Regions from separate parts of the Homo sapiens genome. Here regions 2 and 3 are each linked to region 1. The links come from fine-mapping of genetic effects on gene expression. Tissue or cell type: whole blood. Region 1 holds a variant in brackets; each other region holds the start of a gene. Each region is shown on its reference strand, or each on the opposite one.

The links. PIP is the estimated chance that this variant, and not a neighbour inherited with it, causes the effect.
Region 2: SEMG1 starts here. The variant in region 1 is fine-mapped to the expression of SEMG1 in whole blood (TOPMed, PIP above 0.99).
Region 3: PI3 starts here. The variant in region 1 is fine-mapped to the expression of PI3 in whole blood (TOPMed, PIP above 0.99).

What each region holds. Positions count from the first base shown.
Region 1 is chr7:6,633,825-6,636,490 of GRCh38, reverse strand. No RefSeq gene overlaps it. Among named protein-coding and RNA genes, the nearest start is that of ZNF316, 2.2 kb to the left of the region's middle. The variant A/T (reference allele first, on the strand shown) is at 1,264.
Region 2 is chr20:45,205,625-45,208,290 of GRCh38, reverse strand. It overlaps SEMG1 (semenogelin 1), which reads right to left and starts at 1,258. Exons shown (of 3, transcript NM_003007.5): 1 at 1,162-1,258; 2 at 1-917. The coding sequence starts at 1,237.
Region 3 is chr20:45,173,368-45,176,033 of GRCh38, reverse strand. PI3 (peptidase inhibitor 3) reads right to left here and starts at 1,132. Exons shown (of 3, transcript NM_002638.4): 1 at 1,033-1,132; 2 at 1-173. The coding sequence starts at 1,111. RefSeq lists an enhancer at 343-1,542.

The DNA of each region.
Region 1 (2,666 bases):
TGCACCACTGTTCTTGGTGCTTTTCTGTGGGGACCCCAGGCCTGACTGGGCAAGAGATAGAGGAGGACTCGGCCAGGCACGGTGTCTGTAATCCTAGCACTTTGGGAGGTCTTGGCGGGCGGATCACGAGGTCAGGAGTTCGAGACTAGCTTGGCTAACATGGTGGGTGAAACCCCATCTCTACTAAAAATACAAAAATTAGCCGGCCGTGGTAGCGCACCCCTGTAGTCCCAGCTGCTTGGGAGGCTGAGGCAGGAGAATCGTTTGAAGCCGGGAGGCAGAGGGTGCAGTGAGCCGAGATCACACCACTGCACGCCAGCCTGGGCGACAAGGTGAGACTCTGTCTCAAAATAATAATAAGATAGAGGAGGACTCAAACCTTAGTCCCACAGAGGGGTGCAGCCCCAACCCCTTGAATCAGACCCTCACAGTGATGTCGCTTGGCTCTTGGTGTCTTAAAATGTCTTAAAGTTAATAACATTTTAAAATAAGGAGTCCCATTCTTGTTTAAAAAATAAAATTGAAAAATCAGGTTCTAATGCGGGGTCTCACACCTATAAATTAAGCACTCTGGGGGGCCGAGGCGGGTCACACCTGTAATCCCAGCACTTTGGGAAAACAAGGTGGGAGGATTGCTTGAGCCCAGGAGGTTGAGGCTGCAGTGAGCTATGATAGCACCACTCCACTCCAGCCTGGGCAACAGATTGAAACCCTGTCTCTAATAATAAATAAAATCTGAAAAATCAGAAGTTCTGGCAACACAAGGCCCCTGGTTTGCAGGGCACCAGCCAGTAGGGCCTGAGAAGTAACCAGCTTCTGTGGGTGGGACTGAGCGTGGCCATGGTCCTCAGTGCCCACCACTCCCTGTCCCTTTCCTCCAGGCCCACATCTGAATGACACTGCCTGACTCTCCTGTGGGTATCTTTTAGAACCCCTAATCCCTAGATTAGACCCTTCCCCACCCTACCTGATCCGTCAGGTTCAGTAGGAAGGTGCAATTGCCCCCAGGCACTCCCAGGAAGGGCTCTGACTGTAGGACAATTAACAATTGACCAAAAGCAGTGTCACCAGGTGATGTGGTTTGGCTGTGTCCCCACTGAAATCTCGTCTTGAATTGTAGTTCTCATGATCCCCACATGTTGTGGAAGGGACCCGGTGGGAGGTAATTAAATCATGGGGGCAGTTCGCCTCATGCTGTTCTCATGTTAGTGAGTTCTCATGAGATCTGATGGTTTTGTAAGGGGCTTTTCCCCTTTGCTCCAC[A/T]CTTCTCCTTCCTGCCATCATGTGAAGAAGGAAGTGTTTGCTTCCCCTTCCACCATGATTGTAAATTTCCTGAGGCCTCCCCAGTCATGCGGAACTGTGAGTCAGTTTTTGGTGGTGGTGGTGGTTGGTGGTGGTTGGTGGTGGTGGTGGTGGTTTGTTTTGTTTTTGTTTTTTTCTTGAGATGGAGTCTCGCACTCTGTTGCCCAAGCTGGAGTGCAGTGGCACAATCTCTGCTCACTGCAACGTCAACCTCCCAGGTTCAAGTGATTCTCCTGCCTCAGCCTCCCAAGTAGCTGGGATTACAGGTGTGCACTACCACGCCTGGCTAATTTTTGTATTTTTAGTTGAGATGGGGTTTCACCGTGTTGGTCAGGCTGGTCTCGAACTCCTGACCTCGTGATCCGCCCGCCTCGGCCTCCCAAAGTGCTGGGATTACAGGCAAGAGCCACTGTGAGTTAAACCTCTTTCCTTTTATAAGTTTCCCGGTCTTGGGCAGTTCTTTACAGCAGCATGAAAATGGACTAATACACCAGGTAAAGGGAAGCAGCTGGAATGTGAAGGCACCAGGCCTTTGCCACCCTTAGCCCTGCAGGAGCAGGAAAGGGCAGGATGTTGTCAAGCCTGGAGGGAGGTGGAGATATAAAGATGGGGACACTGTGGGCACTGTGATTATAGAGGGACAGTGTGGCAAGGAGAGAGTACCCCAACCCTGCCCTCCTGCACCCTGTCACTTCCCAGTGCTGCCCGTTGCCCAAAACCACCTGTAATGTGGACAGCAAGGGACCCCAGAAGAGGAGTGTGTATAATAGAGTCAGCAGCTCCATCCCGGCCTTAGATCCCTCCACCCTGTCAGGCAGGGACCCCGAATCACCCCAGCATCTCCTCAGATCTCCTCTTGGCCTGTCCTCACCTGATACCTAATCCAAGACTCAATTTCTTCCTCTCCCTCGTCCACAGATAATTTTCCTTTTCCTTTTCCTTTTCCTTTCCTTTCTTTCCTTCTTTCTTTCCCTTCCTTCCTTTCTTCCTTCCCTTTTCTTCCTTTCCCTTTCCTTTTTAGGAAAGGAAAGGGCGTGAGCCACCTCACCGGGCCCTACGAGTGAGTTTTGCTTCTTGCTCCAACAGCACTGCTGAGGGGCTGAGGAGACGGAGAGGAGACGAAGGAAGCTGGTGGGACTTATGTGTCCTTGGCCTTAGGGAGATGCTAGACCAGGCCTGGGCCACCTGAGGATGCCTCTGACCTGGGGACAATTGGTTGTCATAAACTGTAGTTTAGTTGGACCTTCTTGTCACTCACTACTGAACTCAGTCTTGATAGATTTCCCTAGACTCATTTGAAGAAGGAAGTAATTAAAAAGCAGGCCAGGATTGGCCCATGCCTGTAGTCCCAGCACTTTGGAAGG
Region 2 (2,666 bases), not on the chromosome of region 1:
TGTTATCTGTTTTTGAGACTTGCCCTGTGCTTTCTCTTCAGTTTGGCTATAAATACTGCTTTGGGATACATCTTTCTGCACACCATTTTCTCCATAGTGGAGTCGTCTTTCTTCTGTACTTGAAGATTGGTATGATATTTTATTTGCCTTTCGGCCATGCTGTTGATCTTGATTGAGATTTTTTGTCTGGTGTTGATTCTTGTTATATACTAGGAGCTCATCTTGGGTAGAAAAAATGTCTTTGGATCCATGTTGGAGTTTGTCTTGGTGCGCAGGACAGAGTGAGGTTTGTACTTTACTTGAATGTTCCTCTCTCACTTCAACCACATTTTGGTAATGCCCTTTATTTTGATGAGAATTTTTAGTCTCACGTTGTTGTTTGTTAGCTACTAGCTCTTCAGTTTGGAGAACATAACTGCTTTGGGATCCGCCTTGTTTTCTACCTTTTTGTGCACCAGAGACGGAAGTTTGTTCTTTACTTAGTCCATGAACCCACAGCCTTTCTTCTGTGTTTGAATATTGACTGGATATTCCCTTTCCAGATGGGCTATTCCCCTGATCTTGAGAAGGATTTTGTGTCCCACGATGAGCTTTGCCTCCTTTATGGTGTATAACTACCCTGTGAAAATGACCTTTTGATTTATCATGGTCTCTGCCTTCTTGTTTATTATGGAGCAGTTGTTGACTTCCACCTAGATGTCGTTGTGATTTTGTCGTCTTATGTAGGGCATTCAAATCATATTGCTGACTTTTTCGGGACTGGTCATGATCATTGGCATCTACATGATATGTGTATTGAATAGAAAAACTGCCTTTGGATTCAGTTTGTTGCTTGCCTTTTTGTCCAGAATAGTGCTGGCCCTTTTGTCCGTGTGGAAATTGGGAAAATTCACTTGGTAATCGGCCTTTTGATCCACCTGGTAATTGATAATAAGAAGGTATGCATTCATTATCTCCAAAGCTCCCTTACAACTCTTACCCCCCACTTTTCCCCCAACAAATTATTGATATTTCTAGAAAAGCTGAAGCTTTGGGTGGAGAAAATCAATTCTCTTCAAAGAGAAGAATCTGTGCCTAAACAGGTTACTGTTTGCACCCCAAATAATCTTAGATTATTAGCTGTCTGAGCAGCTTTCCCCAAGGCTTACCCTCTCCACTCACCTTTTTGTCCCATCACAGCTGCTTGCTTCTCCAAGATGAGGAGCAGGGAAAGTACAAAGATGATGTTGGGCTTCATCTTGCTTGGAAAACCTTGTCTGAGAGCTGAGCCGACCTTGTCATTTATATCTTCCTTGAGTGAGTGTGCCATGGGTGGAGCTTAAATTACAAAAGGCACTGACTTTTCTTAGCTTATCAGTAAATGCCAACTTCCTCACCCCTGCTGAGTGTGGGACAAAGTCAATGTCCCCAGCAACATAATGTCAAAGGCATTTTCTTTCTTCTGGCAGCCCCAGCAAATTTTTATCAGTCCTTTTAGATCATCATGCCAGATCACTTTAATTTTACAGAATTATAGACAAAAGTAGGAAAGAGACTGGCTTCAGGCTACAAAAGCAATTGGTTTCTGAGAATGCCTTTATATTCTAAATGTGAGTTTCCCTTCATGATGCAATAATTTAAATACTCTATTTTAGATAGAACTCCATACTTCCTTTTGTTTTAAAAATGATCTTGAGACACGTTCTATTTTACCTAAGAATGAGCAATCATAGAAGTCCAATGATATAGAAGATAATGAAACGTTATGGAATCCAAAGAAAGAAATTTTAAACAAGTAAATGGGGCACTCCAATGTCAAATATGTCTGTCAAGTTCAACACAATAAAGACTGACATGTATCCAAAGTTTTTCTTAGTTGTTGCTAGTAACTTTAATGAGAGATGAATACAATTGCATTGGGTTGTCAGTTGAAGGATGGAGACCAGCTGCAACCTTCTCAGGAAGTCTGAATTCATGGTGGAGTGAGAGCTGAGGCTGTATCTGGAGGGTGAGGTAAGTTCCAGATGTGTTTTCAAAGGATGAAAGAATTTTAATATGCTTTCATGGTGATAGGAACAACTGTTGGAAAAAAAGTAAAAATGCTGGTTTCTAGATTGGGTTCTTTTCATGAAATCTACCTAAACAGCAGAATTTTCTTTTTAATTAAGAGAAGTTTCTACTTCAGTAGTAAACAGCTGAATCCCCAAACAGGCTGTGAGAAATATTTGCCACCATCAATGAATTGAATAATGTATTGTGAGTGGACATGAAGCTAAAATTCCCACCTTTGGTAGAAGCATAGATTTTTCCAATTGTGATGACATCCTGAAAAGTCTGAAGAAACTTTCTTTACTTTGAGTCATAAAGACTTCGTTATGAGCAGACCACAGGAGAAGAAGAAAGCATCCCAACAGTGTCCCTGTGTACATTCAGAACACCTTGGAGGGTAGTGCTGGGGAAAGGATAGCTTGAAAACTTATTTTCAATTATTCTGTCTTAGAATCTTAACCTTCCTGTAGGCAATGCTCTATGGAAGGGGAAAAGAGAAAGGCCAACCACAGAAAAAAAGTGCTATGCTATCAAACATAAATCATGTGAGCTGCATGGTTTCTCTATGAGCCACTCTGAGATCTTACCAAATTTATCTGTTTGCCTCAAAGGCAGTAAGTAGTTCCTTATTGCAGAAA
Region 3 (2,666 bases), not on the chromosome of region 1:
GGCGCACCGGATCAAGATAATGGGGCAGGAGCCAGGCTTAGTGGAGACTGGACCTTTGACTGGCTCTTGCGCTTTGACTTTATCTTGACCTTTAACTGAAACTTGTCCTTTAACGGGATCTTGTCCATTGAATGGAACACGGCCTTTGACAGTGTCTTGACCTTTAACAGGAACTGTTAAAAGAAGAAACGAGCCCACATTTATACCCAGTAAGCCTCTGCTTCAGCTGCCATGTCTTTCCTCTGGGTCTGGGTCCATCCACTGCTTACTGCAGCATCCTCAAACCATGGCCTGAGTAGGGAAGGTACACCTCTGGGAGCTACACTCTTGGAAGGCTCTTCCTTTTTTGGGGTGGTCTACTGGACCAGAGTTCCCTTGAGTATTTGTTTCTTCCCCCTTCCTCCACTCCAAGTCTCTCAGGAGCAGTGGTCAGACTGGGGTGACACCCAGCAGTGAAGAGGACACATTGTCATTTGTTAGGAAGTGCATTGGAGTAGGAAAGAACCCTGAGCCACATACTAGGAGACTTGAGCCCCATCCTGGCTCTGGGAATTACCTTGGCAATTGCTCACTCATTTCTACATTTTTGGTTCCCTCCTTATAAAATGGGGGTCCTCAAACAACATGATTCCTGAAGGCTTGTTGTTTCTTAACCTCCTTTTAGAGTACTGATTACTCCAGTGCTTTTATGGGGCAGAGAAACGGGGGACTGTGTCCACACCCAAGGTTTAAAATCCTGGAGTTCATTATTTTATTGCACATTCTGCACAGGTATTGACATCTGAGGCCAAGGCCACATACCAACATTACTTCCACAAACAGTCCTGATATCTCAGTCACTGAGGTGGAAAGCACGTGGAGTCCACCAGCCAAAGTCCTATTTTTTCTGAATATGATGGCAAAGAACAGAAAGCTGAAATCTGGGCTCCAGTGCTGCCTACTGCTTCAGAAGTGCTCCCTGTCCTGGCCCAGGGTGTCCCAGAGGGTCTCCCCTTAGTCCAACCCAGCCCAGCAGGTCACCTGTTCACTCACCTCCCGTGACAGCTGCCTCTAGAACCAGCGTCCCAGCGATGAGGAACACCACCACGATCAAGAAGCTGCTGGCCCTCATGGTGTCAGGAAGGTGTTTGGCTAAGAGCTAAGGCCATACCAATCTTTATGCAGTCCAGCTTGGCCTGGCTCCAGGGGCGGGTCTGTGGTATTTACAAGGGATAATTCCTTAGCTGTATTGGGAAATATCCACCCCATTCTGGGAGGGACCTGGGGGCTTTCCCTCAGGATTATTCACAGGAAGAACTAATGGACATTACATCACATCATCTCTGATTGTCCCAAGAGTTTTCCTACTTTCTCACAGAGTAGAAGTGCTGGCTCACTTATTAGGTAACATTACAATGAAATTCTTCATGTTTTGAAATACAGTGAGACCCAAGAAGAGAAAGGAATCACCGAAGGTTATTCAGCAAGTCACTGGTAGATCCAGTCTTGATTACAAAACCAAGGTGTTTCTCCATTATGCTCTGGTGCTACAAACCCCACCCAGATCTACTTTATCATTTTACCACTCCCAGCATCAAACTGGGCATTTCCTTCCTTCTTCCCTGGTCCTGCAAAAAACTCTGTAAGACAAATTTGCCTTGAATACATAATGACTAATTATTGCACTTTGCTGTTTCAGAGACGGCCTTTCAGATGCATCAAGAAAGTAATTGGAAGGTGGAATTCTAGGTCTGAAGAGGGATGATGCCCTTGAAATCACAGTGGTAGGGAGAAAATAATCAGAAAGTAGTAGAAAACATGTATCATGTATACATTGGACATCTACAGTGTGTGTGTCCAGCATGCCTCCCCACTTCTTTGAACAGCACCCTGTTTCTTGTGAAGAATTGTTGTCTCTTTGAACCATCAACTTGTGAGTCTAATGGGGACTGCTAATCATGAAAGCCTGACCCCTGACCACAGGTAGGGGTGTGTGTGTGTGTGTGTGTGTGTGAGTGTGTGTGTGTGTGTTGTGTGTGAGACTTGGTCTGGTCTATTAACATATTTTATTTGAATGAGTAATGAAAGGGGAAAACGGGGGTTCCTTCTTCTGGAAAAGGTGATATATATGAACCAGGGAATTCCAGAAGTGGTTATCTAAGTCTGGGGGTGGAGATCAATTGTCTGAGAAAAACGACTCTAATACACTGAGACAAGGAGAGAAGTGATGGTGAGAGAAGATTCAGATGACACAGCCAGGTTTCCCTCCTTTACCTTGAGAGCAGTTCTTCACACACCCTTCTCATGGTTGGGTTATGAGGCAATAAATTAGCCCTCTGCTTCAGCTAGTCTGACTTACTATTCTGTCATTGTTACCAAAAGTTCTGAGTAATAGAAATGAATATCCTGAAGTTGGGTATTGTCAGGGACAGAATCTGAGTTAAGAAAGTCACTGAGTTGAGGTGGAGTTAAGGCAGGGAAGGTAACAAACTAATTATTGGACACTAATTCAGCTGGTGAAATCCCCACCCCTTGTCGATTTAGACTCTGACCACATGCCCACCAAGCCTGAAACTGAGGGAGACATAAACGAATGTCAGACTGTGGAAGCCTTTGGCTACCTTACACAAAAGCTCATTGTACAATAAGCCATACAAACAAATAAAAAGCTCACAGAAAATACCTAT